4 linked regions of the Homo sapiens genome follow. The protein of the gene in region 4 interacts with the protein of the main gene of each other region in a pairwise test. Each region holds a gene or a part of one and is shown on either strand. Other genes may lie near its edges.

Region 1 (8,064 bases), on a different chromosome or scaffold from region 4:
AGGATCATATCTATAAAAAGAGTCCCCAGGCTGGTGGAATGGGCCTTGGTTTCACAATCTTGAGATGCAAAAGGTGGTCTCAGGCTGGGTGCGGTAGCTCATGCCTGTAATCCCAGCACTGTGGGAGGCCAAGGCGGGCAGATCACCTGAGGTCAGGAGTTTGAGACTGGCCTGGCCAACATGGTGAAACCTTGTCTCTACTAAAAATACAAAAATTAGCCGGGCTTGGTGGTGAGCACCTGTAATCCCAGCTACTTGGGAGGCTGAGGCAGGAGAATTGCTTGAACCCGGGAGGCGGAGGTTGCCGTGAGCCGAGATCGCGCCACTGCACTCCAGCCTGGGCAACAGAGCGAGAGACTGTCTCAAAACAAAAGAAAACAAAAAAAGTTGGTCTCCTCTGCAAAGACTTGAACACTAATCTGGTGGAAAGGCTTCCTTTCCCTCGTTTTCTCTTCTACTAATCCCTGCTTCCAAATTCTCTTTCTCTTGTCCCTTGAAGAACCAACAGGATGTGCGATATTTCAAGAACGTAATGAGCAACTCCTCTTTCACAAAGGGAATAAGCAATCTGGCATAGCTTGGAGTCTAGTATTACGGAAATACAGTGATATACTGAAGACTACACACCAAAATACATCCATTCCTTTAGCTGAAGTCTCAAACATGTTGGGACTGTTGCCATGGAATTTCATAAAACCTTTTTTCCTGAGACAGACGCCATGCCACAAAGAAGGATAAGCCATTTGTGCAGTCTGAGGTGGAACATTTTAATTACTGGCAGCACATAGACGAGTTGAGTTGGAGCCGAATGCATAAGCCCCTTAGAAATAAAACACTAATCTACCAGGAATTTGGGATTCTTGGCTCTGGTAGAAATGTTACAAATTAAGCTGACTCTTAATTTGTAAATAGGCTCCATGAAGTTGTCCCTGGAAGCAGAATTTATTTTCCCTAACATAATTTCTTAAAAAGTAAAAAAAAAAAGAAGGCTTTGGCAAACAGCTGCATGTGCCAATTTGTGTGTATGCTTTGTGGCAAGATCAAAATACCTTTCTGTTTTTTGTTCCTCTCCACCACCTTCTTCACATTCACAACTCAGTGGTTAAAGGAAAAACTTAACACACCATTTTCATACCAAAGGAATGTGAAACATGTATTCATATAAATACTCTTCTGCTTAATATCCATACATTAGGAGGTTTAAAAAATACCTTGTGGTTACTGCATAATCACATATGAATTAAAGCTAGAAGGGACCTAAGAGAACATTGAAATCTAATTCCTATTTTATGGATGAGGAAACTGAGTTTTTTTTGTTTTTGTTTGTTTGTTTTTGTTTTGTTTTGTTTGAGACAGGGTCTCACTCTGTCGCCCAGACTGGAGTGCAGTAGTGTGATCTCCACTCACCGCAACCTCAACCTCCCAGGCTTAAGCGATTTTTCTGCCTCAGCCTCCGGAGTAGCTGGGATTACAGGCATGTGCCACTACTGCCCAGCTAATTTTTGTATTTTTAGTAGAGACAGGGTTTCACCATGTGGGTCAGGCTGGTCTCGAACTCCTGACCTCAAATGATGCGCCTGCCTCGGCTTCCCAAAGTGTTGGGATTACAGGTGTGAGCCACCGAGCCTGGCCGGAAACTGAGTTTTAAGAGTTAAATAAGGCTGGGTGTGGTGGCTCACACCTGTAATCCCAGCACTTTAGGAGGCTGAGGCGGGCTGATTGCTTGAGCCCAGGAGTTCAAGACCAGCATGGGCAACATAGTGAGACCCCTATCTCTACAAAAAGAACAAAATGTAGCCAGACATGGTGGTGTGCACTTGTTGTCCCAGTACTCAAGAGGCTGAGGTGGGAGGATCACCTGAGCCTGGGGAGGTCGAGGCTGCACTGAGCCATGATTGCACCACTGCACTCCAGCCTGGGCAACAGAGTGAGATCCTGTCTCAAAAAAAAAAAAAAAAAAAAAGTTAAACGATTTCTCAAAGTCACATAGCTAATTAGCCAGCATTTTGTGACCTCCTATTCCAGTGCTAATTTTACCATGATAACAGCACTCCTCCTGATAGTATGTACATATTATGAGTGACAAGGATGACTTATACATCTGCAGAACCGTGATCAGACTTTCAGGAATTTTCATGGAATACAGCAGTTCCATTTAAATGGGAAAAAAAGGGCCGAAGCCTGCCTGATCAAGGAGAACCTCTCAATAGAGGTGTCCCTCCTCACCCCATTCCGGAGCTCAACTCCGATCTAAACACACATGCCATCTATCTCCAATTCCTCTCCTGTGGGGAGGGGGAGGCTGAGCCATACTTTTTGGACTTTTTTTGTGGAAAATATCATTGGCAAATTTGCTTTGGGTCTGTATCACCAATTCTCCATGAACTCTTTCAAGAAGTTTTAGGTAGCTGTTTTTTGTTTGTTTGTTTTCTGTTGGTGCTGCCAAACAATTTCCCCCTTTATACCCTTGCTCTGCCAACCTTGACCAAAGGAAAGCGATGTCATCATCCACAGTGGATAAATTTCTGGAGTTTCGATGATGGTCTATATTTAAAACCATGAGTTCTTCTGGCATAGATTTTCTTCTATAGACAACTGGTTTAGCCCAAAGCAGCTCAGCTTTTCACTGGAGATGGGAAGGTAAAGGACAGAAGCAGAAGTGCCATCAGATGACATTTTTTAAAAATGTTGTGATAGGAAATGGATCTGATGCTTGGAGAATGGGGTCTTCAGTTACTCGTAACAGATACTTATTTTATGGCTGTTCTTTTACTTACTCTTAGACTGTCATTTAGATTAGGGAGATTAGATCTTAACCCTTCAGCCTGTGAAGGGCAGAAGGGTGAGGCTTCCCAGCAAGGTCAGCTGGTCAGCTCTTCCTCTTTGTGGATTTGCATGTATGACTGAAAGGCTTTTCCACGTGTGGTTGATATATCTCAGAAAGAATGTTTCATATAGCACATCTCCGGGACCACTCATTCCACTGCTGTAGAAGATAATGACCAAATACCTTTTTGGCTTTTAAATTCCATAAAATTCAAGTCCCTGATGGGAAAACAAAGGTTTCACAAAAGTAATAATATGCTAGACCTGCGAATAATTTCTGAAGGAAGACAGTGTTTCCCTGGCTACCCCTGTGAACACAGCTAAAAATGGTATGAAAAGAAGTTTGGAACTGAGTATGTTTTGAGAGCAATCTGTTAGGCGAGGTCATTGGTTTTTAGAAACGATGCTGAATACATAGGAGCAATCCCTGAGACCAGATATTCACTTCAGCAGGGCTCTGTGTTCTCCTCTGGCTATGTGAGACGAGAACTCATACCGATCATGGCTTCGATATCCACACATGTTACACTCGAAAGGGTCACGGAAGCCGTGGCAGCCCATGTGAATCGTGAACATCACATAGTCCAGGAAGAGGACGCGGCAGTGGTCACACCGATACACATCCATCACCTCCCCTTCCTTGTTGATCACTTTGACGGAGTCTCTTGGGCAGATGGGCGGGGGCTTGAGGAGTTCGTAAGAGCGGGGAACCTCCTTCAGAAGTGGCATCCCATTGCGGGCCCGAGACAGGACCATGTGATTTTGCTGATAGATGTGATTCTGGCGTTCTTCATGGTTGCTGTCAGTGTCCGTGGAGTCGTGGCCACTATTGTTGGGAGAGAGGCCTCTCTCAGAAGGCACGCTCTTCTCTGGAAGGTGGATGCTTTTCTTTTCCAGCTCTTGAGGGGCACCGTTTGACATCTCAGCCCGGGTGAGGGCTATGGGATACATGCTGCTGATAACTGGAACCATCTCCGAGGTGGGAGCAGGCGGTGTCTGGACCAAGGGGCGCAGGGCTTCGGCGCCAAGATAGCTGATGGCGTTATTGATGGCTTGGTCCATCATGCGGGTCTGTATGAGCTCACTCTCTTTCTCATACATGTAACTTGAATTATAGTTGACATCAAAGCAGTGGCGCTTCTCACCTGGAACAAGTGACAGAAAGGGTTACAAAGGGAACACTGCCAAGGCAGAGAGTTTGTAAATATTTTCTAGAGACCTCAAAAAGGGAGGAGAGTTAAGTTGCCTGCTGCTCAAGAAGACCAAGCCTGGCAGAATGGTTTCCCATGGTGCTGTCTCAGGGGACACTGGTCGGCAGCAACGTGTTTGGATGGTTAAAATAAAGCCAGCAGGCAGAAGAGAGGGGCAGAGATGTGGTTCAGTTGAGGCCACATGGTAAGGTATGCCCACTGTGCATGTTAGAGGAGAGCCCTCAAGAAAGGAGGGAAAGAAGCAGGACACTAGGATGGGGCTAGAGGGACAAGGGAGCCACCAGCCCACAGGAGCCTGGGACTTCTGCTATAGTTCATGATCTCTTAAGACACAGTCGGCTCCCAACTCTTATTTTGCTTTTGCTTGTTATTTTCTGCTTGCAATATTAGGTAGCCAGGGGGACAGAAGTGCTGCAAAGAGTGGGGACACTCGGTGCCTCACCTCGGCAGCTTTTTAAATAGCTACAGAGATAGAGAAAATAGCCCCCCAGACTCCAACTGGCTACTCCCCAAACTCACCCGTCCTGGCTGACTGAGACTGAAGTGAAAGAGCTTCAAATGTAGAAAGTTTGAGAAAAGTTTTCTTGAGAAGAGATCATGGTCTTTGTCCCTTTCCTAACGTGTGTTTCTCTTCCTTTGCTTGGCAAGTGTATCTCTGATACACATGTGATCATTAGGGCCTATCTCACACTTAACTGAAAAAATATACTTGTGGTCACCCTCTCCTACTTCTCATGTCAAACTGCTGAGAAGTTTTGAAAACAGAGTTTAGCCACCTTCAGAGTGTGTGGGTGTTGTGTGTTAGAAAACAGAGGCTCTCTGGTCACAGGGAAGGCAGGGATGGGGACTGCAGTGAGGGCAGATGTGCTCAGTGGTGAGTGGTGGGGAGAGGGGAGAGAAAGCGAGGAAGTGGAGCCGAGTGCTGGAGGTGAGGCTGAGGTCACTGTTGAGCCTCTCCATTCTGTCAGCTTGGATCCTGGAGGGATTTGCTAAACCATATCCTTCTATAATGTTTCCTAGTCATGTTGAGATTCCAAAATTTGTCACTGCCCTACAGTAAAGGGTTCAGCAATGAAAATAAAGAAGAAGAAGAAAAAATGCCATGAGAAAACAAAAGGATTGGAAGAACCAGTTCCTGTTCTTGAGGTGTCTCCAACCTAGTGGATGAGAAATAAGACCTATATATATATAGAACTCGAGAAAAAGTATAAGTTAAAAGTTGGCCGGGCGCGGTGGCTCAGGCCTGTAATCCTAGCACTTTGGGAGGCTGAGGAGGGAGGATCACTTGAGCCCAGGAGTTCGAGACCAGCCCGGGCAACATGGAGGAACCTTGTCTCTACAAAAAAATACAAAAATTAGCCAGGCATCTGTAGTCCCAGCTACTCAGGAGGCTGAGGTGGGAGGATCACCTGAGCCTGGGAGGCAGAGATTGTAGTGAGCTGAGATGGCACCACTGCACTCCAGCCTGGGTGGCAGAGTAAGACCTTGTCTCAAAAAAAAAAGTTGTAAAAGGACTGCTTTGCTCTATGGAGGTCTTTGCTTTTATTCTAAATGCCCACATTTGAGGCATTTAGGCAGGGAAGTAACGTGTTCTTTAAAAAGAATAATAAGGTAACATACAGGCATCGGTGAGACAATTTGGTATAAATTGTATATTTAGGCATTAAGGGAATGCAGAAACTTCAGAAGTACTTGGGGAAGGGAAAGCATTCTTGGAAAATCTAAATTTTGAGAAGGGTCTTGAACTGGAAGAATTTAGATTTTCAGAGAAGCGGGAGAGGACATCCTAGTTGAGGGGGAGTGCAGGAATGAAGGCAGAGAGGTGGGACTACACGGGACGTGTGCAGAAAGCGAGTCTGGCTGAAACGCGATCAAGAAGTATGAAATACAGTATTTCTCAGGCTTCACTCTTCCTTCACATTCTGCAATATCCACACACCAGGGCAGTGTGGTGGTTGAGAGAATAAACTCTGGTGTCAGATGGGCTGGGTTTGATGCTGGCTCCATTGGTCACCAGTTTTGTGACCTTGGGCAAGTCACTTAACCTATGTTCCGTGTCCTCATGTAAAGTGAAGATAATTGTATGTACCTCACAGGGTCACTGGAAAGCACTTAGAACAGGGCCTGCCACATGGAAAACACTTGGTAAATGCTTGGGTTTTTTTCCTCTGTTTGATTTGGTTCACATTTTCTTTCTTTTTTTCTTTTTCTAAAATAAATGTGGTTTTTAAGGAAACTTTATATCACTAACATAAACGGAAAACCAGAATCACTTTCCACAAGTAGAAGGTAACTATGAAAAATAAAGACAATGAAACAGAGCATTTCATTAAATTTTGATCGGATACTACTGTGAGTACTTGGAGACTAAGATCCCTTCCCCCTTTGTTAAAAACAGAGATTACCAAGTGTGAGATTAGTGTTAAAGACAACTGGCATCAAATTAAGTCTAAATTTTTCTCCTTAGTATGATCCAGGAGACTGAAAGAGAACTGGAAAGAAAATAATTATCCTGCTGTGTGGACCCAGGTTTTTAAATGCTCCATGTGCTTGCTGGCAATTTGCATCCTACATTTGGGGAAACACTGAAAAAAGATAATGCATGGTAGGACCGAATGGTGGGCATTCCGAATGGCCCACTGTAGGGTGTGAATCCGAACCAAGAGCCAAGGCTACCTGCCCTTGAGAAAGACAGGTTTGTGGTTAACGTAACAGCAATGTGTAAGGCAGACCAGAACAGTGAGAAATTGGAGCCAGAAGAACCAGCTAAAAGATCTATTCCCATGAGATGAATTTGTCTTTGCATCCCCACAAGCAGCTGACCTTAAGGCCAACCTGATAGTTTCCAGAGAAATACCTGAGAGAGAAAAAAAATATGCAAACGAAAATACCCTGTCTTGGAAACTCAATGAGAAGCAACAGCAGAGTAGACCTTGGCCAAAGTAATCAATGTTTTTTATTTTCAGTTTCCAGATTGGATATATCTTTGGTCAAGGCCATCTGGAAGACTGAGAACATGAGAGCCAGCTAAGGTCACAGACATTCATTCCCTAGAATGTGACACAGAAATGATGAACTTCGGTTTCTTGGCCTTTTTAAGGTTATTGGTTATTTTCCACTGTGGCCACCTCTATTCATCTCCCTAAATACCAGGGGTCCTTGAGAAACTTTTTCTCTTTTCACCCAACAGAGAGGCTCCAGAAGGTTTCTGGGTGGGGTAGGCACATCACAAACTCTGATTTTATCCTTTCTCCTAAGAGTTTGCTTTACTTAACAAGGCCTACAATTTCACAATCTATACCACCTGCAGCATATGTCAGAAAACAGCTGAGTGCTAAAATTGTAAAAGGCAAAACATTAAGAGGAAGATAAACCCCTGGATGAGTGGAAATATGTGACTGAATTCTGTAGTTAACACAGACCATTGTTCATTGTTAAGGAGATGGGGCAGCCTCAGATGTTCACGTGCATGCAACTTGCAATCATCAGATCCCCTCGTCTCTGAGTTACGGTAACTTGAGCAGTGCAGATGATTATCAGTCACCTGTAGACACGATGACTCAATGTGTATGAAACCCAGAAAGGGTAAACTACAGTAATTGAAAAGCCAACAGCTCACGTTTCTTTAGTAACACACTCATAAAAAAGGTTAGTCAAACCACAAAAGTGTAACTGCTTCCAAACCTGCACGGAGCATCTGGTCCAGCTTCTAGTCAAAATCACACCACGCCTTTGAATGATTCATGATACCAGCTTCAGGCTGAATTAGAGGTCTTCTTCCAACAAAAATACACACGGCAACAGCAAGTCCTAAGTTTAGAAACTAAGGCTGCCTGGTTGGGCCATTCCCTACCTGTGGTTCTTTTTAAAGGTGTCAATGTCTTATATCTTGGCTTTGTTAACTCTAAACTAAGAAACCACCTGACCTGAACTGATGCAATGTGGTGAGGACATATGGTTGTTGGCTTCTAAGTGCCAACTTGGAAGTACAGAATCACAGGCTAGAGCTAAAAGGGCCCTTAACTGA
Region 2 (8,064 bases), on a different chromosome or scaffold from region 4:
ACAATGCTATTATGTCTTTGAAGGAAGAAAGCGAGCCAGATCACTTAGATATCAGAGCTTCATCCTGTTGTCCAAAGAGCCCATAATGTTCAGGAATCCAGTGCTGAGGAGGCGACAATAGTCATTGCTCACTGGGATATGTGACCAGAGCAAATGGTGACATACATTGAGTATCTGGGAATAGTTATTGGCAGAAAAAAACAGTAACAGATCCCTGAGAGGACCTGTCCCCATCTAAAATCCTATACTTCCTACAAATCCTATCCTTTCTAAGAGGTTTCTTAGGCCATTACACTGGAAGGCCAAAGAGGCCATAGTCTCAGGTTAGGGCTGAAATTTAGGTCCTTTAGCCCAATGCAGAGTTTTCCTTCAATCCTAGTCAATTTTATTGCAAGGGCAACAAATAGAAAGTGAGCTAACGCGTGGGAAAGTAGAAGGGACTTTGGACGTCTTCCAGAATGTCAAGAGTCTGCGGCTACAGAGGCTACACAAGTGGTCCAGACCCTGGAACCAGTATGAGCTCTGCTACAAGGTGGTGCAGGAATATATGGATGCATTCTCAGTTACGCCAACTTCAAGTAAGAGGCGACAAGGGCCCGTGGACCAGGAGGATTGCTTTTAATATTTTATAATAGTCTGTTTTGTTAGTTTACCCCAAATTGTGTATCTGTCTTGTAACTGTTTTAGAAATTGGTACATAGGTGGAGATTTTATAAGTAAATGTGTTAGCACTGATAGTCTTTTTTTCCAGTGTTTTTTTGGGGAGTTAAATAGTGTGATGTTTGGACCGATATCATGAAATCTTTAGCCTGGAAATTGGGCTGGATTGTTCTCTGGTTAATACATCTTTTCCTAAAGAAAAAAAAAAAAAAGAAAGTGTGCTAACATTGGTGAATGGCTCTTTATAACGAATTATACAACCACACTATCACGAAAACAGCTCAGCACTTCTGCCCACCTGCCCTGGGAAGAGCTACACTTCTCTGTGACTAAGAATGTTAAGTCATTAAAGTGACATTTTGGAGTTTCCCATGGCTCCCAAGTGTGTCACTGTGCGTTCAATAGTTTGAATGTTTATGATTCTTGAATGTAAAGCTCCCTGTGTACACCTCGTTGTACAATGTTAAGTACATACTGAACATTGAGGAAGGGTGGCTTCTCTATTGTCCTCAGCTGGACTGGTGTCTCCAGTGAGGAACATCGTGCTGGGATTTTATTCTCTAATTCCTAAAAAAAGCAATATGAGAAAAGACAAAAATCAAAGATTAAAAATCAGATAGAATACAAAGGGGGAGGTGAGACTTCTTAAATCTTAATAAATTTGTGAGTGGGACATTTTGAAAATTTTATACCTGTATTAGTCCATTCTTGAATTGCTCTAAAGAAATATCTGAAACTGGGTAATTTATAAGAAAATAGGTTTAATTGGCTCATGGTTCTGCACACAGTCCAGGAAGCATGGTTGGGGAGGCCTCAGGAAACTTACAATTATTGGGGGAAGGCAAAGGAGAAGCAGGGCACGTCTTACATGGCCAGGACAGGAGAAAGAAAGAGCAAAGGGGGAAGTGCTATACACTTTTAAACAACCGGGTCTCATGAGAACTCACAATCATGAGAACAGCAAGGGGAAATCCTCCCCCATGATCCAGTCACCTCCCACCAGGCCCCACCTCCAACACTGGGGATAACAATTTGATGTGAGATTTGGGTGGGGACACAAATCCAAAGCATATCAATACAATTTAAACTTTTCATTTGCTTTTTCGTAGTTTAGGTCTGCCAAATTTGTCATGCTTCAACTGAGCATTTCACTGAAATACCCAAATTCTTCTACAACATGTGTATTTAGTTTTAATACTAGTGTAACAAATCCTATATGGATGGTTTTATTTTTTATTTTATGTATTTATTTTTTTGAGATGAAGTTTCACTCTTGTTGCCCATGCTGGAGTGCAATGGCACGATCTTGGCTCACTGCAACCTCTGCATCCCGGGTTCAAGCAATTCTCCTGCCTTAGCCTCCCAAGTAGCTGGGATTACAGGCATGTGCCACCACACCTGGCTGATTTTGTATTTTTAGTAGAGACAGGGTTTCACCGTGTTGGTCAGGCTGGTCTTGAACTCCTGACCTCAGGTGATCCACCCACCTCGGCCTCCCAAAATGCTGGGATTACAGGTGTGGGCCACCACGCCCAGCTGGATAGTTTTATTTTCTTGTCTTACATATTCTGATCAACTTTCAGTTCATCTAAAGAAAAACTCACCCACCTCCTTACACTCAAAAAGTGTTTTTTATTCAGGAGGAAAAGGCTCATATGTAATGATAATAATAAAAACAATAAATATTTTGAAAATAATTTACTTTGTGTCAGATACACTATAAGGCATTTTGCAGATGGAATTGTGTTTAATTTTTCTGCAAGACGTTAAAAATGGCCATGGAATCTCCACAATTCATCTCATTGATAAGTGGCAGTTAAGTTCTCTCCCACATTTTACTGGGCTGGCCTATGCTTGGCTTTGATCAATAGCTTGTGGCATTGTGTCAGTGACATAGTGTGAGTGCCAGAACCCAGACCTTAAGAGGCTTTGCGGCTTTCCTACACATTCTTGGGAGCCTGAGCCACCATGTAAAGAGAGATCTGGCTGCCTATCTGGAGAGACCATGCAGACTCAGCAGCCAGTATTGACCACTAGACATGTAGATAAAGCCATCTTGGTTCACCCAGCCCCAGACGAGCCTCCAGATAACTACAGCAGCATAAGCAACCTCAGCCAATCCCAGATGGAGAAGAACTACCTCCCAGCTGAGCAAGGCAACTCTAAAATTTTGACAAAGAGTAAATTATTATTGTTTCAAACCACTAAGCTTTGCATGAATTGTTATATAGCAATAAATACAGATAAACCCCATAAAACTTCACATTCTTGGCTTAATTTATTCCAGTGAAACCCTTATTGGTAGGTAAGAGAATATATGGATGGAAAATATATTTCTAGGTACAGGGTACCACTGTATCATGACTGGCAGCTGTGGTCACTGGGATGAGTGTCTGAGATGAACCAAAAACACTCACTTGGTATTTGGAATGAAGTGAAAACAATTATGTTTCTCTTCCTTCCTGAGTAAAGTAGAAAAACCCAGAATGGATACACACACACACAAAAACACACACACACACATACACAAACATGGATATATATATATATATACATGTATGTATATGCATATATACATATATATATAAAATCTCAAATACATTTTTGTCACTATTTGTCACTACTGAGATCACTATATTGATATACAGGACTAGAAAAGCAATACAGTGCAGCATGCCTGCCACAGACCTGTTTATCTCTAGGCAATTACAATGAGACTTGATTGTGCTTTCCTCCTGCAAAGGAAGGAAATTTTTTCTGCAAAGGAAAATATTTCTCTAATGTGCTTTACCTAAAACCTGTCAATGTCTTCCAGTCAATCATTGCTATTGTCTTTCAGACAGCTTCAGAGTTGTCCACCATAGGAAGGTTGCCTTCTCCCATCACCAAGGGTTAATAAATTTTCTCCTCCCTTCCCTCAGAGGAGGGAAAGATGTAATCTCTCGCCTCTCTCCCCTTTTCTCTCTCTCTCCCTGCCACCTCCCAATTTTAATCAGCAGTGCCAATATCCAACTTCAATGGCCAATCTCCAACTCTCTATACATGGAGTCAAAGCAATAGCTAAGAAATATGTCCTCATGTTATTACAATAGTATTGATGATGACAAGGAATGGAGCACAAATAAGTTTAGATTCTTGCTCATTCTCTTTGCTAAACTACCGTTGGGTGCATTTCCCTCTCACTGAAGTGTCAGGATTCCGAATGCTGAAACAGATCACTAGCCGAAAATGCTTTTAGACACTTAAAGGTTGACTTGACTAGCAAACTTTTAACCTCAGTTTTTGCTTGATCCAAGTCAATGCCTAAATCTAGACCAGCCCTTTGACCCAATCTCTCATGGAGAGTGTTCCTGGTGAAGTCATGGAAATATGGCCAATGGCCTGTTTACAGATTTGTGTGAGTAAAGTGAAGCTTTTGCAGGGGACTGTGGCACTTCTCTTCATCGTTACTCCCACAGATTCCTACAGTAAATTTTCCTTGTACTGTGAAGAGCAAGGGCGTCTCACAGAAACTCTCGGGGATGGTATCCTCTTCTCCATTTGCACTCACCCCCAACTTTTCACCCTTCCCTCCAAATCAGAAGGAAAAAAGTTCTCTCTGCTCATCTAATGTTAATTTTTTCTCTCTCCCACCCAGGGTGTATATTTTATCCTCCTCGTAATTCTTTTTCTTTTCTTTTCTTTTTTTGAGATAGAGTCTCACTCTGTCACCCAGGCTGGAGTACAGTGGCACAGTCTCAGCTCACTGCAACCTCCAGTTCCCGGGTTCAAGCCATTCTCCTGCCTCAGCCTCCCAAGCAGCTGGGACTACAGGCAAGCGCCACCACACCCGGCTAATTTTTTTATTTTTAGTAGAGACAGGGTTTTGCCATGTTGCCCAGGCTGGTCTCAAACTCCTGACCTCAAGTGATCCACCCACCTCAGCCTCCCAAAGTGCTGGGATTACAAGCGTGCACCATTGCGCCCGGCCCCTCCTCATAACTCTTGTGGAATATTTCCCCTCAGTTATCCTCCCTTCCCTTCCAACAACAACTCCTCTTGTCTTCCTTCTTGCTTCCTATCATTCTCTTATCTTCAGTCTCATGTTCCCCAATGGCTCCTTCCTTTCTTTGCAAATATGTAAAATGTTTTCCACTTGGGGTAATAATGCAACTTCTCTTGACTGTGATCCTACCACTAACCCTGGACTCTTGTCTCTTCTTTACCTCTGAACTTGCTGTATTTATATTTTCATCATGTAATCTTCAGTATAATGACATTTAGCTTCCACCTGGCTGATGAACTAAAATTGAATTCTTAAAAACAATAGTGACTTCTTAATTATCAATTCTAGTGTAGTTTTTACAGTCCTCACTTTTCTTTTTTCTTTTTTGAGACAGAGTCTGGTTCTCTCACCCAGGCTGGAGTGCAGTGGCGCAGTCTCGGCTCACTGCAACCTCCGTCTCCCGGGTTCAAGCAATTCTCCTGCCTCACCCTCCTGAGTAGCTGGGATTACAGGGATGTGCCACCATGTCTGGATAATTTTTGTATTTTTGGTAGAGTCGGGATTCTGCCATGTTGGCCAGGCTGGTCTCAAACTCCTGACCTCAGGTGATCCACCTGCCCTGGCCTCCTAAAGTGCTGGTATTACAGGTGTGAGCCACTGTGCTCGTCCAATTTATAAATTTCTTGACCAGACTTACAAAGACTATTCACAATCTGCTTCTGACACTTTTCTATCATTTAAAAATATCATATTTCGGCCGGGCGCGGTGACTGGCGCCTGTAATCCTAGCACTTTGCGGGGCTGAGGCGGGTGAATTACAAGGTCAAGAGATCAAGACCATCCTGGCCAACATGGTGAAACCCCATCTTTACTAAAAATACAAAAATTAGCTGGGCATGGTGGTGCATCCCTGTAGTCCCAGCTACTCGGGAGGCTGAGGCGGGAGAATCGCTTGAACCCGGGAGGTGGAAGTCGCAGTGAGCTGAGATCAAGCCACTGCACTCCAGCCTGGAGAAAGAGTGAGACTCTGTCTCAAAAAAAAATGATAATAATAATGACCATATTTCAATGCTACCGCAATGCCATAAATGTTCTCTGTACTTTAGCCAGCTGGGCTCATTTTTTTCTGAAAAAATCTTCTGCGCTTCTGTGCATTCTTTCTTTGAGCTTATGCTCACTCTGATTTCCCATTTAGTCAGACAGAATGTCCTTCCTTCTCTTTTATGACAATCTAAATAAAAACATAGTAGAACTGAAGCTGAAATGGAGAGAACCACAATGTTGAATAGCTATTGTGTCATATAAAAGGGAAACATAAATAACAGGAAATGAAATAAAGGCTAAAAATTATTTAAAGAGAACTCAATTATGGTGAATCGATTTTCTGACAAAGTTGCCAAAATAATTCAATGGAGGAAAATAGTCTTTTCAATAAATGGTGCTGGGACAATTAAATATCCACACATAGAAGAATGACATTAGACCCCTACCTCAATCCTTACACAAAATGAACCTAAAATGGATTATAGAACTAAGTATGAGAGCTGAAACTATAAAACTCCTAGAATAAAACATAAGGGTAAATTTTTGTGACCCTGGCTTAGACAATGGTTTCTTGCGTATAACACGAAAACATAAGCTACAGAAGAAGAGAATAAATAAGTTGGACTTCATCACAATTAAAAACTTTGGTGCTTTAGTGAAAATAGTGAAAAGACCAATCACAGAATGAGAGAAAATATTTACAAATCATACATCTGACAAGGAACTTGTATACAGATGTACAAAGAACACTTAGAAATCAGCAATTAAAAGACAACCCAGCTGAAATATGGGCAACGGGACTTCTAGTGTGGCTTCTCCTCTGGCATGCAAGGAGCTTGGAAGTACCAGCAACTCTTCTTAGATCTGGCAGAGAAGTAAGGTCACAGGGCAAATTGCTGACCTAAAATTGGAGAAACAGACAGGCAAATACAGGGAATTGCAGCTTACTGAAGTAGGAAGCTCCTCGAGAACAGGGCAGAAGCCTCCAGAAGAGCCAGTACAGGAATCATGTTCGGCTTTCAACAAAAGATTATAAGGCAAAAAAACAGAGTTTGAAGAGACAGGGCAAGCATCAGAACTAGATTCAGATGTGGCAGGGATGCTGGAATTACCAGACTGTGAATGTAAAACAACCATGATTAATGTGCTAAGGACTCTCATGGGAAACGTAGACAGCATGCAAGAATAGACAGGTATATAAGCAGAAGATGAGAATTCTAAGAAAGAATCAAAAAGAAATGCTAAAGGTCAGAAACACTGTCAGAGAAATGCAGAATGCCATTGATGGGCTCATTAGTAGACTGGCTATGGCTGAGGACAGAATGTCCGAGCTTGAGGATATCTCAACAGAACGTTCCAAACCTGAAAAATCAAGAGAAAAAAGGCCAGGTGTGGTGGCTTATGCCTGTAATACCAGCACTTTGGGAGGCCGAGGCGGGTGGATCATGAGGTCAGGAGTTCAAGACCAGCCTGACCAACATGGTGAAACCCTAGCTCTACTAAAAATACAAAAATTAGCCAGGCGTGGAGGCATGTGCTACTCGGGAGGCTGAGGCAGGAGAATCGCTTGAACCCAGGAGGCGGAGGTTGCACTGAGCCAAGATCGCGTCACTGCACTCCAGCCTGGGTGACAGAGCAAGACTCCATCTCAAAAAAAAAAAAAAAAAAAAAAAAAAAGAGAGAGAGAAAGAAAAACACTGGAAAATAAATGGTAACAGAATATCCAAGAATTGTGGGACAATTACAAAAGGTATAACATATGCATAATGAGAATACCAGCAGAAGAAAGAAACAAAAGCAATATTTGAAGCAATAATGATTTAAAATTTCCCCAAATTAATGTTGTACACCAAGCCACAGATCCAAGAAGCTCAGAGAACATCAAATAGGTTAAATGCATAAACCCCCCAAAACAAAAAACTTCACATAGGTATATCATATTCATACTGCAGAAAACCAAAGATAAAGAAAAGAAATCTTGAAAGAAGCCACAGGAAGATTAAAAGTAATTATTTGCTATAAATAGCAAAGATAAGAATTACCTCTTCCTTCTCCTCAAAAAGCATGCAAAGAAGCAGAGAATGGAATGAAATGGTTAAAGTGTTGAGAGAAAAAAACCCACCAACCTAGAATTCTGTATTCTGTGAAATTATCCTTCAAAAGCAAAAGAGAGAGAGGGCCAGGCGTGGTGTCTCATGCCTGTAATCCCAGCACTTTGAGAGGCTGAGGTGGGTGGATCATGAAGTCAGGAGTTCGAGACCAGCCTGGTCAACATGGTGAAACCGTGTCTCAACTAAAAATACAAAAAGTTAGCCAGCTTAGTGGCGTGCATCTGTAATCCCAGCTACGCAGGTGGCTGAGGCAGGAGAATTGCT
Region 3 (8,735 bases), on a different chromosome or scaffold from region 4:
AATTATTGAAACTCAGTGATAGACACATAGATATTCACCATATTATTATTCTATGTGTTTGAAAATTTGCATAATAAAAAGTAAAAAGAGATGGAAAGTTTAAAAGAGTACCTACCTCATGCAATAATTGTAGAGCTTAAAGAAATGATCACATCTGAATTGCAAGGAATTTTTACAAATCTGAATTATTACCATAAATGTTTAAATATCCCATTTAATCATTCCAACAACCCTACAAAATGTATAGTATTAATCTCCATTTGGCAGATGAGGAAACCAAAGTTTAGATAAATTAAAGAGTAACAAATTCTTCAAATGGCATGGGGCTGAAATGGAATCTGAAACCAGAGTTATCTGACTCCACCAGCACACCGCCTTTATTTTAAGAATAGCTCATTGTGTTCTATTTGGTTGACAATTAGGATGTCGTTTATTCGTCTAAGTCATTGGTTTCCTATCTCTTTTCTCAATAGCAGAAACATGTTTTTCAAATTCAGCCCTACTCAGAACTCTAGTAAGTAAAACTGATAAAAGCTAAACAGCTCTGGCTGAAATGGATTTTGGGGCCCAGCAACCAGCCCACTTGACTCCACAGTGACCCCTGAAGCACCTTGAGGTATATGGAGCATAGTGTGAACCCCAGATTGAAGCCAACAACAACAAAAACAACAACAACAACAACAAATCCCAACCTGAAGAAGTACATGTTAAGAGCAGCCTGATTTGTATAATGCATCTTTCATTTCCCTGTCTCCCATCACATTGGATCCTCATTATCAACTCTGAGGTAGACAAGGCAGCACATATCACCCTCAATTTGCAAATGAGGAAGTAAAGGCCAAATGGAGTTAAGCAGCTGGCCAAAGGTGCACCAGTTCAATTTTCAGCCAAGTGCAGACTGGAAGTCGAGTCTGTCTCCATTAACTCTGTGTGACCTGGCAAAGAGGATGCCATCTACTGGAAATTGCTACTGACCCTTGGTCCACAAAGTGGACAATCAGCTTCTTGGCCATTGAGAGCAGAGCACAGCCCCATGGGCCCTCCTGCCAAGGCCCTGTCCCAGAGCAGATGGCAATGAGCAGGGGAGAAGGGCTCAGTGCCACTGAAGGGCCTGACAGCAGGATTTTAGCTGTAGATGGGCCATTCCTGTCTGAGCCTTGTCATGCTGAGCACAGGGCAGGGAGGCAGGACTAGCCAAAGTGCCTTCCACCTTCATCTGCAGTAAGTAAATGAGCCCACAGAGGGACAGCAGGTAGTGTAGAGCTGGGTGTCATTTACACTTTGCTTTTCTTCTTAGCTCTTGCTTAGGCATCCCTGAAACCCGAGGCAGCTGATAAATGCCTGAATGGCTCCCCAACTCCAGAGCATCTCTGAACTGAGCTGTAGCATGTGTTGGAGCAGGCAACACTTAATTATCGGTTAGTCTTTAATTAGCTCTTAATTATTAACACTTAATCCATCTGTAAAATGGGGACACTAATACCTGCCTCACAGGGACTCTGGGAACATTAATTAAGTTTACAGTCCACTTTGAAGATGCAAAACGTGAAATAAGTAAGTGCTCAACGGCGGTATTAATAACCACAGCAGATTTACTTTCTTTTCCTAATTTCCCTTTTTCCTCTCTGCTCCTTCCTTTCCTTTCGAATATCCATCCTCAACAATATCTGCCCAACTTTGCCCTGATGGAGAAACACTTAGCTCTGTGTTTCCCAGACACAGGATTTCCCATCCCGGAAACGGGCTATTTACAGCCATCTTCCCGCACTTTAATTTTCTATTATGTCCTCTGAATATGTCAGTGCCTTCCCAGTAAATATTTTGATGTGTGCTCTTGCAGCAGCTTCTGTGGAGGCTGAATGGGACAGCTGCTCCCTGTATTAGGGAATTCCAGATGTGATTTAAAACCATCAGACTCATCCATGTGAATGCCTAGCCTTTAGGTGGGAGAGGGGAAGGATCTTCTAGTTGCTTCTGGGGAAAGCCACAAGCCATATAACCCTTAGCCTTAGCTAGGGTGGTTTTTCAAGGACCTCAGATTCACATGCGTTTAGGATGAGAAATGTCTGCTTAACGGGCTGGTGAAGAGGCAGCCTGGAATATAGCCCTAATCTGACTCTTCACCCACAAAACTTCAGAACTTTGGTCAGCTCTTCTATAAAGCTTGGACAAAGGACCATGGAGGGGGCAATATACAGCCTTTAGGGTTTCACCAGCCTCAACAGTGGGCCAGAACATTCCCCCAGAAGGTCAGACTTCATCTCCTCCCTCCTCCCTTGCTGCCAATGGAGTAGGGGGGTACTTACTCTTCTTGAAAGCTGAGCTCATTGCCTCTTAGAGTTCCAACCACAGGGACAGAGAGCTGCTCCATGGAGGTCCAGGGCTGTGAGGCCTCAGGCAGGCCTTGAACTCTCTTCCAGATTTCATGGCAAGTCTTGTCTAGGCTGTCTTGGGGTGTGTCCTGGTGGATCCAGATGTATCTGGGGAATGGGCCCAGGGCGCAGGGGCCCTTGGCCACCAGGGCCGAGGATGAAGGAAGCCCATTCCCGCTGGCCATCCTCCTCCTCTCTTTCTGGAAGCCCCTCTGTCCACCCAGGGCTAGAACACAACCACCACCACCCCTCATTCACCAGAAAGGGAGATGAGGATGGGGCTTGGCAGAAGTGGGTCAGTTCTGTCTGGCTTTCGCTCCAGCAAGGTGGTTAGGTTCAGAGGCCTTCTATTTGTGTGGGAGGGGTGGGTGGAGGACAGCTTTCTTTTGGGGAGGGGAGGGCTTATTTTGATTTGTTTTTATTTGCTCTTTCCTGACTTTTGCCTCCCTCCCCCTCTCCCTTAGAAGAAAATATTTAAAAGTCAACAAAAACCAGTAGCTTAGGAACAGTGGAATGCTGCGGAGCTCAGGAACCAGGCGCCTGGGCGGGCAGAATGACATCTGGGAACAGCTGGAAGGGGAGGGCTGGCTCTCCCCACAGTCCCTGGCACTGCCCCCTTGCGACGCCGCCGTGACAACTTTCGGCGCCTGGGCTCAGCCCATGCTGTCCCGCTAAGCCACGCGGAGGACTGGGTGCGGGCCTGGCACCATTGTAGGCACTCGGGGGGCGGGGCCCCGCAGGAGGCGCTCGCCTGGGCGTTCCCAGGGAGCCCCTCGCAGAGCGAGCGTCAACGGCCCGACTCCCACCCCCGGCCCAGGTCCTGCTTTTCTCTCGCCCTACCCCTCCTGCTCCCGGTCTCCCGCTGCTGCTCTGCTGCCCCCGGAAAGAAGGGATGAGGCGTGTGTGGATGGGCCCACAGCCCTTAGTCCCCGGCCCCCAGCAGACCCCTGCCCCAGCCGCGCCGCGCTGCCAGGCGGGCACCGGGAAGGGCCCAGCGGCTCAAGAGCGCGCTGACTCGGCAAGGCAGGCTGGGCCGGGCGGCTCCCACCAATTTGCCTGCCAGTAGCTCCCACACCCTCGCCGTCGTCGAGCGGGGGAATTCTTTCTGTGGGTTTCAAACGCAACGGCTCGGTGCGCGGGGCGCCCTGGGTTCGGAGCCCAAGACCCGCCGGTGGGGTGGGTGGGGGTGGGGCCCAAAGGACCCCAGAGCGCTTCGGGGGATCAGAAGTCAAAGCCAAACGCGCCGCCGCCCCACTTCGCCGCTCCACACAAATCTCAGCTCCTGCCTGGGGGTCCCCCGGCAACCTCGATTTTAATCCTAACTGCCATTTTATGGGGCGCTTGCCCTGTGCCAAGCGCTGGGCTCACATTCAATCCTATTAAAGCTCGTGAAATTAGTACCACTTTTTATTATCGTTCTACACGGGAGGAAAGCGAATCTCAAAGTCATAAGGGATTGCGTCCAAGGCCCCCTGAGAAAAGGGAAGCTGAGACTCAGACCCCAGCACTCTAGGCCTGATCTAGCCCTTGACCACTGAGACAGCTTCAGTAGGTGGGTAGGAGCAGGAGTAGGAGGTCCGAGGTGCAGGGAGAAGGGCTAAGTTAGCTGTTTGCTGATCAACAGGCCCCTACCCTCACTGAAGCGGCTTCATTCAATTGGGCACTGACACAGTACCTCTGCTGAGGGAGACTTTCTGGTTCCGAGAGTCAGGGGGTTGCTTCTCTAGCAATTCCCCTGAAAAGGAAAAGCAAGAGGGTGGAGACGGAAGAAAGAAGAATGGACACAAATAGAGGAAGATGGCAGTCTATAAATGCAGGGCTGGGTTGAATCCTGACACTCATTTCCGAGCTGTGTGACCTTAAGAACTTTCTGAACTTCTCCCATCCCCATTCATAATTCCCCCAGTACTGATGCAACCCCTCCTCTGTGCCCGATGAGTTGCTGGGCACTGAAGAAGCATAAGGGTGGGCAAAAATGGCATGGTCCCTGCTCTCCTGGAGCCTGTATACTAGCGAGGAGAGATCGATGCAAACCAGCCAAGCGAGTAAAGCAGCAATAATTACAGATGCAATGGGACTCTGATGGAAAATAACTATTAGGTTGGTGCAAAAGTAATTGCGGTTTTTGCCATCACTTGCAATGGCAAAAACCACAATTACTTTTGTACCAACCTAGTAACAAAGTGAGGCACTGGGGAGAAGAGGGGAGGCAATATTCCATGGTGGTCCAGGCCGACTTCTTTGAGGAGAAAAATTTGAGAAGGATGAGAGGAATTCCTTTTCTGTAAAATGGTGTTAATAAATTATGAGGATCATGTTTCTGGCACATAGTAGGCACTCAAAAAATATGTGTTGGATGAATTAATGGTATACTGTATGTAAAGTGCCTGGTATACAGTAGGTGCCCAATACGCAACCTTGCTCTTTACAGAGGGGCTGAGTTCCTGGAAATGTTTACTCTAAATTTTGAAATCTGAGCTTCATTCTCCTTTGATTTTCATTACAAAATTGAAGATGTGTTCCTTTGGGGAAAATTCTGAGGGCCTAGACTGAATAAAATTATAGTTAAGAATGTAGAAAACCTTTTAAAATAGTGTATTTAAAGGAAAAGTGATCATTTCTGATGAAATATTAATAGTTCTGAAAATGTCACTCAGTGTTTGTGCTGCTTGGCATTTGGTTGGCTAACACCTTAAGCTTAGAGCAGAACGCCAACGACCCTGCACTGCCCAGGCCCCAGGATTCTGGAAGTTAGCCAGCTCACTCACTCTTCCTGTTCCCTCTCCCCCTCAGCAGGAGACCAGGCAACGGGGGCTAAATCAGAAAGGACTGCAAAAAAAAAAAAAAAAAAAATCAAATACAGCAGGGATACGGAACAAAGATAGAGCATGTTTTTAGAGTGCACAGACGAGATTTCTAGAAAATTCTGCAAAAATCTTAAGTGATGTACTTAGAAATAGTATAAAGCTATGTCCATATGGTAGCCACTAGCCACATGGGGTTGTTTTAATTTTAACTTTATTTTTATATAAATTAAATGAAAAATTCAGCTCCTCATTTGCATTAGCCACATATTATGTGCTCAGTAGCCACATATGGCTAGTGGCTACCATATTGGACAGCACAGAGAACATTTCTTATCATTAAATACATATTCTCGGGAACCAGAGTCCCTGGGTTCAGATTCTGAGTTCACGTTTTCTGGCAATGTAAGCTTAGGCAAGTTACTCTGTGCCTTGGTGTATTAGTTTGGTAGGGCTACCATAACGAAGTCCACAGACTGTGTGGCTTAAACAACAGAATTTTATTTCCTTGCCATTCTAGAGGTTAGAAGGCCAAGACCAAGATGTTGGCATTGTTAGTTTCACTCTGAAGTCTCTCTCGCTGGCTTGCACTTGGCTGTGTTCTCCCTATGTCCTCACATGGTCTTCCCTGTATATGTGTCCCTGTCCTAATCACTCCTTTAAAGGACACCAGTCATATTAGATTAGGACACACCCTAATGGCTTTTTTCTTTTTTTTAATCTTAGCTACCTCTTTAAAGGACTCATCTCCAAATACAGTCACATCTGAGGTATTTGGTTTAGGATTGCAGCATATAATTCAGCCCACAACATTTGATTTCTTAGTCTGTAAAATGGGATGATAATGAAGAATACTTGCTTTGTAGAATTACTACAGATGTTCTATTACTAACCAATTGCTTAACACATGGAAAGTCCCTTGAACAACAACTGACAGATAAACGTGTTATACAGTTGTTTGCTTGTTGATTACACTGAAATGCATGCCTTTGGAGTTTCTGAATAGCAGCTTTTGTGTTTTGTGTAGAGAGGGAGAATTGTGTTGTACTGGGGAAGTTGTTCTGTGATGGAGAAACGAATTCACATAATCACTTACGCCTTTCCAGGCTTTGTTCATTTTTGAGCATCCATCATGGGTCAAAATTGTGAAAGACACAGGGATTAGAGATGATGAAAAAGATGTCTACCCTAGACAGAATCACCTAGTGACAGAGGCGGGGCAAAGCATTCCATAAGTGCCTGGTGCAGAGCAGTGTGATATAAACTGACTTATTCCAGTTTCCATCCAACATGGAGTTATGTTCCTCCAACACATGTATCTATGCCCAGCACTGTTTGAGGTGCTGAAGATAGAGTAGTGAAGAAGAGGAGTTTGGTCTCTGTCTTTTTTAGAGTTTAAAGTGAAGCATTTAATGGTCATGGACACCATTTAATCTGTAAATTATTTTTAGCTTGGAAAACTTCTTGAATTCCCCCTGACTACTTACATTACCCTGGGCAGGTTGGTTTAACCTCAATGTCTCCATTTGCTCATCTATGAAACAGAGACAATAAAATACTGACCTCATAGACTTGTTTTACGATAATGAAATAATACATGTAAAGTGCTTATAATAGCTTGGCTAATGTATGTATCCAGTGAATGTTGGCTATCATTATTTAGAATTCTGGGATTCTTAGCTTTTCTCTGTGGAACCAGGAAGGCCTAAGGAGGAGGCAATTCTCCTTACCTCCCATCCAGTCAAAGCCTCTTCTCATCTGGCTTTCATCTCTGACACAAACATGGCTAGGCTGGAAAACTCAGAAACGTGGGAATGGCCTAGGCTCTTTTACAATCATCATATAGCCCCTAAGGCTGCTTACTCTTGTAGGTCCTTTTAGGTTCCTCATCTAACATATTTTAAACACACCCACCTCTCACCATAAAAATAACTTTTTGGCTATAGAGGAAAATTGAAAGGATTTTTGCCATTTTGCTTTTGAAAGTTTTTGGCCATGAGTAATTTATTTAATTTGTGATGGGCTGTGATTTCTCACCAATCTTAGTGCCTACTCGAGAAATCTTGTGCAGTGAGAAAACTCCAACCTACAAATTGTTACCAAATGCAATGAAATTTTTATGACTACTAAATCCAACAGTTAATGAAGTTGACATAATGTTATACTCTGCATTTAATTAAATATTTACTGATTTCCATGTGGCAGTTTTCTTCTTTGTATTGTGGGACTAATCATAAAATATTTAGGACTCAAACGCTTTTGTAGGTCCCTAAAACCCAGAGGGACCCCCATTCCCATGCGAATAATGCTCAATGGGTCAAACTGCCCAGAGGCAGGATCCATGCATAGGAGTATCCCAGGCAAATATCTTGGGGAATTAACCATCACAGCTAAAGGAAGAGGAGGTTGCAGCCATGTTTCATGGGAATGGGCCTCCCCCTCATGTTGTCTCAGCAACAGGACAGGGCTGCAGAGCAGCCAGCCATTTCTAGGACTTTGAAAAGGAACCTTGAATATTCTGCAAGCAAAGCTGTGACTCTGTGGCTTCTCTCTCCTGGCAACACCATCGGTGATCTCTGCCATTTCTTGGGGGTTTTTCCCTTACTATTGCCTTGTTCCTTGCCCACATGAGAGGAGGCAGTTAAGAGCTCGGGTGGTGGCAGCTGACACACTTGAATTGGAATTCCTACTCTACTACTTGATAAAGGTGGCTTTGTATATACTTAACTTCTCTGACATTTCTTCATCTGCAAAGTTGTAAAAACAATAGGTTTGGGGTAGGAAGAAGGTTTAAATATGGAAATGCACGTGAACTTCTCAACACAGTGCCTGGCTTATGGTAAACTCTCAATAAAAAGAAATGTGTAATTATGATTATCACTAGCTATTGTTATTGAGAGCCTAGCAATGTAAAAATGGCAGCCTATGAGATCTCCACTTAAAGTTAGGGAAAAGGAAGGTCCTAGATGACAGAATAAAAGAATATGGTGGTGGCAGTAGTGGTCCAGTGAGGTAGAAACAAAGTCAGAATTCAGCTGGCTTTCCTCCTGCTTTGGTTTTTCTGCCAGACCCCAGTAGTGATAGGTATGCCAAGGATTCCTGGCGAGGCCCTTTATGGGAAACCCTTCAGCTAGAAGCTTTATATTTTGCCCTTCCTTCCATAGCTTCCATGCCGGGACATTGGTCACTAAAATGCATTCACTTAAGACTTCTTCTACCTTACTGCTGAGATGATTTGAGGCAGCTTTCAGATTAAAAAGTACAAACTACAGCATCAAAGAATAAAGGAAGAACTGACTCTAAGGAAAACAGAAACAGTTGCTACTTTCCAGCACCCGAACTGGTCAGGCCTCATGGAGGTAATAAGGCAATAAAACTGGGTATCCTTATTTGTCAGCTAAAGCAAAAATGGAAACACGTCGGGTGGCAGAGTTTTTGTTTTCTGACAGCAGAAAATACACATCTTCATCTGCAGAGACAAAATGTTTCCAGGAAATAACCCCAAGCATGAATTTATCATGAGTCCTTGTATAAAGGACACTGAGTGACATAGTGGGCA
Region 4 (7,954 bases):
CATTATAAAGTGGGCAAAGGCCATGAATAGATATTTTTCAAAAGAAGACATACAAATCGCCAAAAAGCATGAAAAAAATGCTCAACATCACTCAGCATTAGAGAAATGCAAATTAATTTAGTTCTATTTAACTTCACAGTATATGACGAACTAGTTAATGTTTGCAATGTAAGACATTAGTAACAAGGTTTCACTAAAATACTGTAGCAGATGCTGCTACCTGCCCAATTTCCCTGCCCTTCCTTCCTTACTAACAGAGCCTCAATTTGGATTGGGGCAAGGATTTATTCATCTAAGAAAGAAAAAAGAAGTGAAATGTCCCTGGGTCACTTACAATATCATTCTGGTCAATAAATGTTAAGTAGATGGGAGGGATTCTGGGAAAATTATTATTTTCTGGATAGAAGGTGATAGACCCAATTGGCACACATATTTTGCCCTTTGTCTTTCCCCCTTCTTTCTGCCTAGAGGCAGGGTAGCTATCTTTTGACCACCAGATGACCATATTGCAAGGATGGTGTGCCCCAGGAAGCCAGGAAGAATGGTCTATGTCTCTCCAGATTTTGTGTTATGAGAAAAATATCTCGTGTATACTACTATTTTGTGGGCTTTTGTTTCATGCAGCTGAAGGCAATAATGACTAATACAAATATTGTATTTACAACTGAGAATAAGTAATTGCAAATTTGAGGACTGTTGGGTAATCACCTTAACAAGATTCTGCACATCACTTTTCATGAGGGTTCTATCCATGTTAAAGCCATTACTTGGATCCAGGACAACAGCTTTCACCTAGAAAAAAGTAGGAACGAGTCCATTAACTAGGAAAGAATCCATTAAGCAATTTTATTTCATATTATTAGCTTAATATGTTTCCATTTTTTAAACAACTACCTCTTGATTACGTTGGGGTTGGTTTTCCAACTATTCTTCTTATTACTGAACTCATCAGTACCCTTGTTAGAGGTTGAAAAAAGGAAGCAACAAACATCAAACTTGAATATGGTGCTAGAAAAGTTATATGGGGAAATAAGTTGAAAGCAATGGCTAGGTTTTCAATTGGGAAACTATGGCATATTTTATTGTATTTTTATTGTGTATTGTTAACCAAAAGCAAGAACAGAGAAACCACAGCAATGAGTAATTTTTAACAACGGCAAACAAAAATACACGTCAAAAAATTCCCACACAGGAGAACATTATTGATGTTTCCAAAACTCATCAAGGTCTTCTAAATGTCTCTATAAATCTAGAACTCACATGCTCTATAAACTTTTTAAAAATGTTTTCACAAATTTGTCCAATTATCTCGTTATGCTTCAACTGAAAAACATTTATGAAAGCCTCACAGAATTTAAAGGGGAAAATGGACACCACATCTTAAAAAACCTCTTAATAAAACAGTAATCACAAAAATATTTCTTCTTACCATAAAAGCAATCAGAGTTTCAGAAACAATCTCTCCATGGGCTGCACATTCTTGTCCTATTTCTCGTATAATACTCCTTATAACACTTTCGGCCTGAGTTGGAGGCATTCTGGCTAAATAAAACAACAATTTTTTTTAAAAAAACCGTGGTTTTATGCAAATTTATTTTTTTCCTCTTTTGATTTCTGCAATATTGTATTTGTAAACAGTCATAATATCATCTATTAGCTTATTAGCATTTTTATTAGTATCTAGGCCTCTCCTGTTTTTCATTATTTTTAAAAATGAAGGACTTTATTGAAGACAGACAACGATTGGGATTTCAAATAATTGAAACATTTGATAAATAACATTTTCAATTATTTAAATTATGGTCACTAAACATATATTCCTATCATGATATTCTTAATTAAAAAAAAAAAAAAAGGCTAAGCAGGCTGGGCGCGATGGCTCACGCCTGTAATCCCAGCACTTTGGGAGGCCAAGGCAGGCAGATCACCTGAGGTCGGGAGTTCGAGACCAGCCTGACCAACTCAGAGAAACCCCGTCTCTACTAAAAATACAAAATTAGCCGGGAGTGGTGGCACACGCCTGTAATCCCAGCTACTTGGGAGGCTGAGGCAGGAGAATCGTTTGAACCCGGGAGGCGGAGGTTGCGGTGCCATTGCACTCCAGCCTGGGCAACAAGAGCGAAACTGTGTCTCAGGAAAAAAAAAAAAAGGCTAAGCAGTATTTGTAGGGGAGGGAGGTAAAATTAATGAGAAACCCAAGAGTACAGCTTTAAAAGGAGAAATGCTTATTCCACCACATTCATTAAATGACCCTTCAGAACTGTACTAGAATCTTGGAAAACAATTCTTGCTCAGATCATTAAAATGATCTTTTCCGCACATCTAAAATAGAGTTCAGACTCTCGATAAAAAAAAGCATTTACTATAAGGAAAAAGTGGTAGGTTTTGATCGAGTTTTCTGATTTTCCTGAATATCAGTAACTAAGCACAATGGAAGTTGGCATGTAGAGTATAACAAAGGCAATATCAGGTAGATAAAGCCAACTCCTCAGCATTATTAGCTTTCCAATGGATGAGTACGAAGCACTAGGCATTTTGTCCAGTGAAACCAGATTGCCTGGATTCCATGGTGACCCGACCACTGTCCAGCTGTGAGACCTTGGGCACTTGCTTCACTTCTTTCCAGAGGTGTGAGGACTAAATTAGTCCTGTTTTTAGTGGTTACAACAGTGCGCGGCTTAAGGGAATCGCTTAAAACAGCTTATAATCAGTACTCCAAGATCACAGGCAGCGCATGCGCAAGTGCCAGTCAGTGGGAGAGTCCGTCGCGCTCCGGATCTGTGTGCGCGCTCCGGATCTGTGTGCGCGCTCCGGATCTGTGTGCGCGCTCCGGATCTGTGTGCGCGCTCCGGATCTGTGTGCGCGCTCCGGATCTGTGTGCGCGCTCCGGATCTGTGTGCGCGCTCCGGATCTGTGTGCGCATGCGCGCCGCTGCCGGGTCGCTAGGGACGCGGCTCAGCACCTTCCCTGCACCCACCCTCCAATTACTAAGTCTCCCGAGGTCCGGCTTCTGGGGTAGCCAGTGGAGCGAAACAGAAGCGGGAGGCCTCAGGCACCCGCGCAAAGGCTAGAGGGCAGCCCTGCAGCCCTGGGGTGGCGCCTCCGGCAGGAATGGACCGCTGTTCCAGCTCTGCGGCGGCGCAGCCTAAAGGATCGAGACTGAGAGCTAAGTCTCGACGAGGCAGGACGCGGTCCTCCAGCCGCCCGAGCTCCGCCAGCCGCCCCAAGCTCGCCGCCTGGCGGGGTACGCCTCCGGGTCAAGGGCGCGGAGCCCCGAGTAGGCTGACCTGGATCGGAATCGACAGCAGGAGCCGTGTCTGTCTGCTTCTGTCCTGGGGCCCTCACCGCGACGGTCGGAGCAGTTGGGCGCTCGCAGCCACCGCCGCGTAACCATGGAGATGGAAGGCTCCGGACCAGAGGGGGCGGGGCCAGGTGGGGGTGGGGCGGGGTCCCACTTTGAGGGTCTTTCCCCCAAAAGATGGGCTGGAAAAACTTTAAAAACAAAGGAATTTCAGGCAGAGACATCTTAACCTCCGTGGTTAAGACTGTGAAACACAAGTTCTCGTAAATAAGGATATTAACTTGCTAGCGTGGGAATGATGAGGCGGCTTTGAAAGCGGGGTGGGGGAGAGGGAGGAGCCAGTTGGAGAGGCTGGGAAAACGGAAGGGCTGTATCCTGGGCAAATAGAGTTCTTGTAAAAGTATCTAGTTTTAAAAAACAAAAGTAAAAAGTATCGAGGTTTTATTTCATGTCCCGTTGTTCAAAGGAAGTCTGTAACAGAACGCTCCAAGATGCCCGAAGAGAAAACTGCTCATTCAAGAAGCACATGATAAGAACACATTAGTGTCCGAGTCAAAATAATGAGGTTTTATCCCTTAACGATAATATCGTTAGGCCCACCTTCAGACGTGAAAGTGTGAAAAAGGATTAAATACTCATTAGAAGGAGAGCATCAAACAACAAGGTTTTATTTTTAAACAGTAATTTTTCTCAAACTGCAAACAAATATGCAGAATATGCTTTGCTTAAGGACATTCCCTGATTACTAGGAAATGAATCAACACAAAAACTCAAGAATATACATCATAATATAACACAATTTTATTTCCGCCTTCTAGAAAATGTTCCCGGAATGTGGAAGAAGCTTGTGTAAAAATAGATGTTCAGAGTAACAAGATTTATAATAGCACAGCCTTAGAAATCTAAACACGTTATTTAAGTAAAATATCAGGCAGGTATTTAAAATTATGTTAACAAAAACCTTGTGTTTGTCTTATATTTGTTAAAAGCCAAATGCGAAATTTTTATATAATATGACTTAAACTATATTGACATACATATAATGCACAAAAAGTGTAGGTCAGTTTTTCAAAATCACAGCAAGCAATTAGATCTAAGGATGGAATTATAGGTAAATTACTTTTATTTCTTTATACTTTTCTGTTTTTTCTAGATTTTTCCATAATGAGTATATATTGTCTTATGATCTATAAAACAAAATTTAAAAATACAAGGGAGATGAGACTGGCTATTTGTAGAGAATGAACCCAATTTAGATATACAAATATACTGTAAGTATACAAGGTAAAGCAACCAAAGGACGGTGAGATAGCAAAATTTTAACAGTGGTTGTAACTTTGTAATGGCTTATGGCTGATTTGTCTTCTTTATACTTTAAGATAGCTACCAAAATGTCTTCCATGAGCATATATTATATATTAGAATATTAAATATCTTTTAAGATGGTAAGAATAATACCATCATATTAAGTATAGTTTTAAACTAATGGGCAAATCCTGGCACAAATACTCCCTGAAGTATGTTTGATACTGTTAATTCCTACTTAATGTCAATGTTTTCTTCTCTTTCTGTTACTAATTTAACCCTGTGTTGGGAATGACAGTGTTCTCTTTTAAAAAAAAAAATCTCTCAACCTCTTTCTCAGTGAGAGTGGCCTGTGACATGGTCTAGCCAATGAGATGTAAGTGTAATCACTGGATGAGGTGTCAGGGAAAGCACTTCCATTTTATGTCTATTGCCTTTCCTTTTCTTTCTACTTGAAATGAGAATATGCTGGCTGAAGCTCCAGCAGCCTTGCTGTGAACATAAACATGAGGGTCACATCTTAAGGATGGTGGAACAAAAATGAAAAAGGAACCTGAGTTCCTGGTAACGTCATGGAACAGCCCTATCAGCTTCTTGACTGGCTATCTCCAGACTTTGCATGAGAGAAGATAAACTCCTATTTTATTAAGCTACTATTATTTGGGTTTTTTGCTACATTCAGCCAAACTGAATCCCTGACTGCTACAATGGGTATGACTTTGGAAGTATTATTTAGCGTTTTGTGCTACATTGAATTATTCTCCCTAATCCTTCATGCCTCTTAGCATCCACACCTTTGCCATGGACTTTGGTGGAGTATACTTCCCCAATCCTTGATTTTGAATTTAGCCATGTGACTTGCTTTGGCCAATAGGTTGTGGTGAAGCAACGGTGTGCCAAATCAGATCCAAGATCTTAAAGAGACCCCATATTTCTGCTTTCTCTCTTGTGCCTGTATCATTGCCATGAGAAGTACATACAAAGCAAGCTCTTTGGTCCCAGAATCACATGCATATGGCACAGAATTGCCTGAACCGATCTTTTAGTAAGATGCAGAGATGCCCAACTAGGGCCCAGCCTAGATCAGCCAAACTCCAGTCAACCTGTAGATGTGTGATAATGAATGAGTATTGTTTTAAACCGCTGAGTTTTTGAGTGGCTTATTATACAGTATAAGTGTGGAAAGAGTTCATTTATAAACCTTTCAGTGATTTAAATTTCTCATTTATAAAACAAAACAATGGTATCTATCTCGTGGAGTTGTGAGAGTAAAATGAGATAGCCGTCATGAAGCACTTAGCACAGCATCTGACATAGATAAAAGGATTCATAAATTTTAGAAACTAGTATTTTATGACCTTTATCATGGTTATTATTGACAACATCAACTATGACAATATATTTTATACTCCCATGGTTTATTGGACTTCTAGTCTTTGTAGAACTATTTGTTCCTAGTTTTAACACGGCAGCAATGGCATTTAATTAAAAAACACGGAGGAACCAGAGTGCATCCAGAGAATAAGAAAAATTTTGTCAGAATAAGATAGAGAGAACTGGATATATTTACCTTGAGAAAAAGAAGGCATGAGAACTCTTCTCAGTTTTGTTAAAAGAGAAACCAAGTTTTATGTTGTTTCAAAACACCAGATTACAAATCTACATAAAACAGTCTTAAAATAGAATTGTGATGGAAGTCATCCTAGAAGAAGTGAAACCCATTTTATCAAATGTTTTTTATCTAAAAGCTAAAAGATTGCCTTTAAGAATATTGTAGAATTAATTTCTTCTGATTAAGTATCTTTAATATGTCACAAACTGTTCAACATTTAAAGAGAGAATTATATATTTTTCCTTTTCCTCAGGCTTTAAGAAGTTTTAAGCTCAAATGAGTTGAGCTTCTTAGCATGTTTAATAATTTTTTATTGAGCCGGGCACGGTGGCTCACGCCTGTAATCCCAGCACTTCGGGAGGCCAAGGTGGGTGGATCGCCTGAGGTCAGGAGTTTGAGACCAACCTGGCCAACATAGTTAAACGCCGTCTCCACTAAAAATACAAAAAATTAGCTGGGCACGGTGGCGGGCGCCTGTAATCCCAGCTGCTCGGGAGGCTGAGGCAGGAGAATTGCTTGAAGCTGGGAGGCGGAGGTTACAGTGAGCCGAGAGATCGCTCCATTGCACTCCAGCTTGGGCAACAAGAGCGAAACTCCGTCTCAAAAACAAACAACAACAACAAAAAATAATAATAATTTTTTATTGAATACTGGACGTTGTGAATTGCATCCTTGTTCAGTGTCTGAATTGTCCCCCTTTAGGAAGGGTTGTGCTGTTTTTTTCAGCCAGTTATTTGTGGATGAGTTTGATTCATTTGTGGACTGTTTTTAAGCTTTATTAGGGTAGGTCTAGAGTAGTCTTCATTCCAGAAATAATTTGACCTTACTACTAATTAATAACTGCTCAGAGGTCTTCAATGAATTCCTTGGTTTTCACTGAGGACTCTTCACTCTGGCTGGTCAGAGCTCAAATGTCTTCTCATCCTCTGTGAGCTCTAAGAATTATTTAGCTTATACTCCCTGGTCATTCTGTGCTCGACTGTGTGGATTGTCAATCCATACATGAACAGCCAAGTACTTAGCAAAGTCTCAGATTTATGAATTCTATTTATTTATTTGTATAGCTTCATCCCTTCCAAAACTTTGCCCTTCAATTTCCACATCTGTGAACTCTGATCTCTGTCTCCTCAACTCAATAAAGTCCCTAGGCAGTGGGTTTACCTTTCTATGCCCAGGATCTGGAAACTGCCTCCAGGCAGAAATTTGGGGGCAATAATAGCAAACAGTTGTTTTATATATTTTGCCCAGTTTTCTAGTTGTTTGTGGTAGGAAGTTAAGTCCAGTCCTTGTTATTCCATCATGGTCAGAAGTGGAACCTTGGGTAACCTTGGAGAGAGGCTAATAGGAAATAACCATCTGGGAGGGTAGAAGAGTGGGTGGGCTTACTAGAAACTTTCAGTAACTTTCAGTAATTACTGAGAAGTAATGAATGTGCATCTGAGTGTCAGGATCATGAATTTAAAGTGAAAGCATTTTGCCATGTTAAGTGATTTTCTTTGGAAATTATTCAGCAGCTCAGGAGCAAGCATGATCTTGAAGAATGGTTGGCTTGACCAGGAACTAGCGTATTGCCAGACTAGCATTATCATGCTAGACCATGCATTTAAACCAATGTAGAGCAACAAAAGCAATTTACTAGTTTTTTTGTTTGTTTGTTTGTTGTGAGACAGAGTCTCACTCTGTCACCCAGGCTAGCATGCAGTGGCACAATCTCAGCTCACTGCAACCTCCACCTC

Evidence for each region.
Region 1: the proteins of CFAP206 (region 4) and IKZF3 interact in binary tests that used the Homo sapiens proteins (3 or more experiments, as listed by UniProt).
Region 2: the proteins of CFAP206 (region 4) and C9orf153 interact in binary tests that used the Homo sapiens proteins (3 or more experiments, as listed by UniProt).
Region 3: the proteins of CFAP206 (region 4) and C1orf94 interact in binary tests that used the Homo sapiens proteins (3 or more experiments, as listed by UniProt).

The regions. Positions count from the first base shown.
Region 1 is NC_000017.11:39,762,523-39,770,586, forward strand, and holds part of IKZF3 (zinc finger protein Aiolos), read right to left. Parts: intron 3,972-8,064; coding exon 3,268-3,971; 3' UTR 1-3,267. UniProt on the Homo sapiens protein: Transcription factor that plays an important role in the regulation of lymphocyte differentiation. Plays an essential role in regulation of B-cell differentiation, proliferation and maturation to an effector state.
Region 2 is NC_000009.12:86,228,403-86,236,466, forward strand, and holds part of C9orf153 (uncharacterized protein C9orf153), read right to left. Parts: intron 1,228-8,064; 5' UTR 1,202-1,227; coding exon 1,136-1,201; intron 1-1,135.
Region 3 is NC_000001.11:34,171,681-34,180,415, reverse strand, and holds the start of C1orf94 (uncharacterized protein C1orf94), read right to left. Parts: upstream 3,510-8,735; 5' UTR 2,627-3,509; coding exon 2,307-2,626; intron 1-2,306.
Region 4 is NC_000006.12:87,403,423-87,411,376, reverse strand, and holds the start of CFAP206 (cilia- and flagella-associated protein 206), read right to left. Parts: upstream 3,406-7,954; 5' UTR 3,288-3,405; intron 1,543-3,287; 5' UTR 1,538-1,542; coding exon 1,430-1,537; intron 793-1,429; coding exon 709-792; intron 1-708. UniProt on the Homo sapiens protein: Essential for sperm motility and is involved in the regulation of the beating frequency of motile cilia on the epithelial cells of the respiratory tract. Required for the establishment of radial spokes in sperm flagella.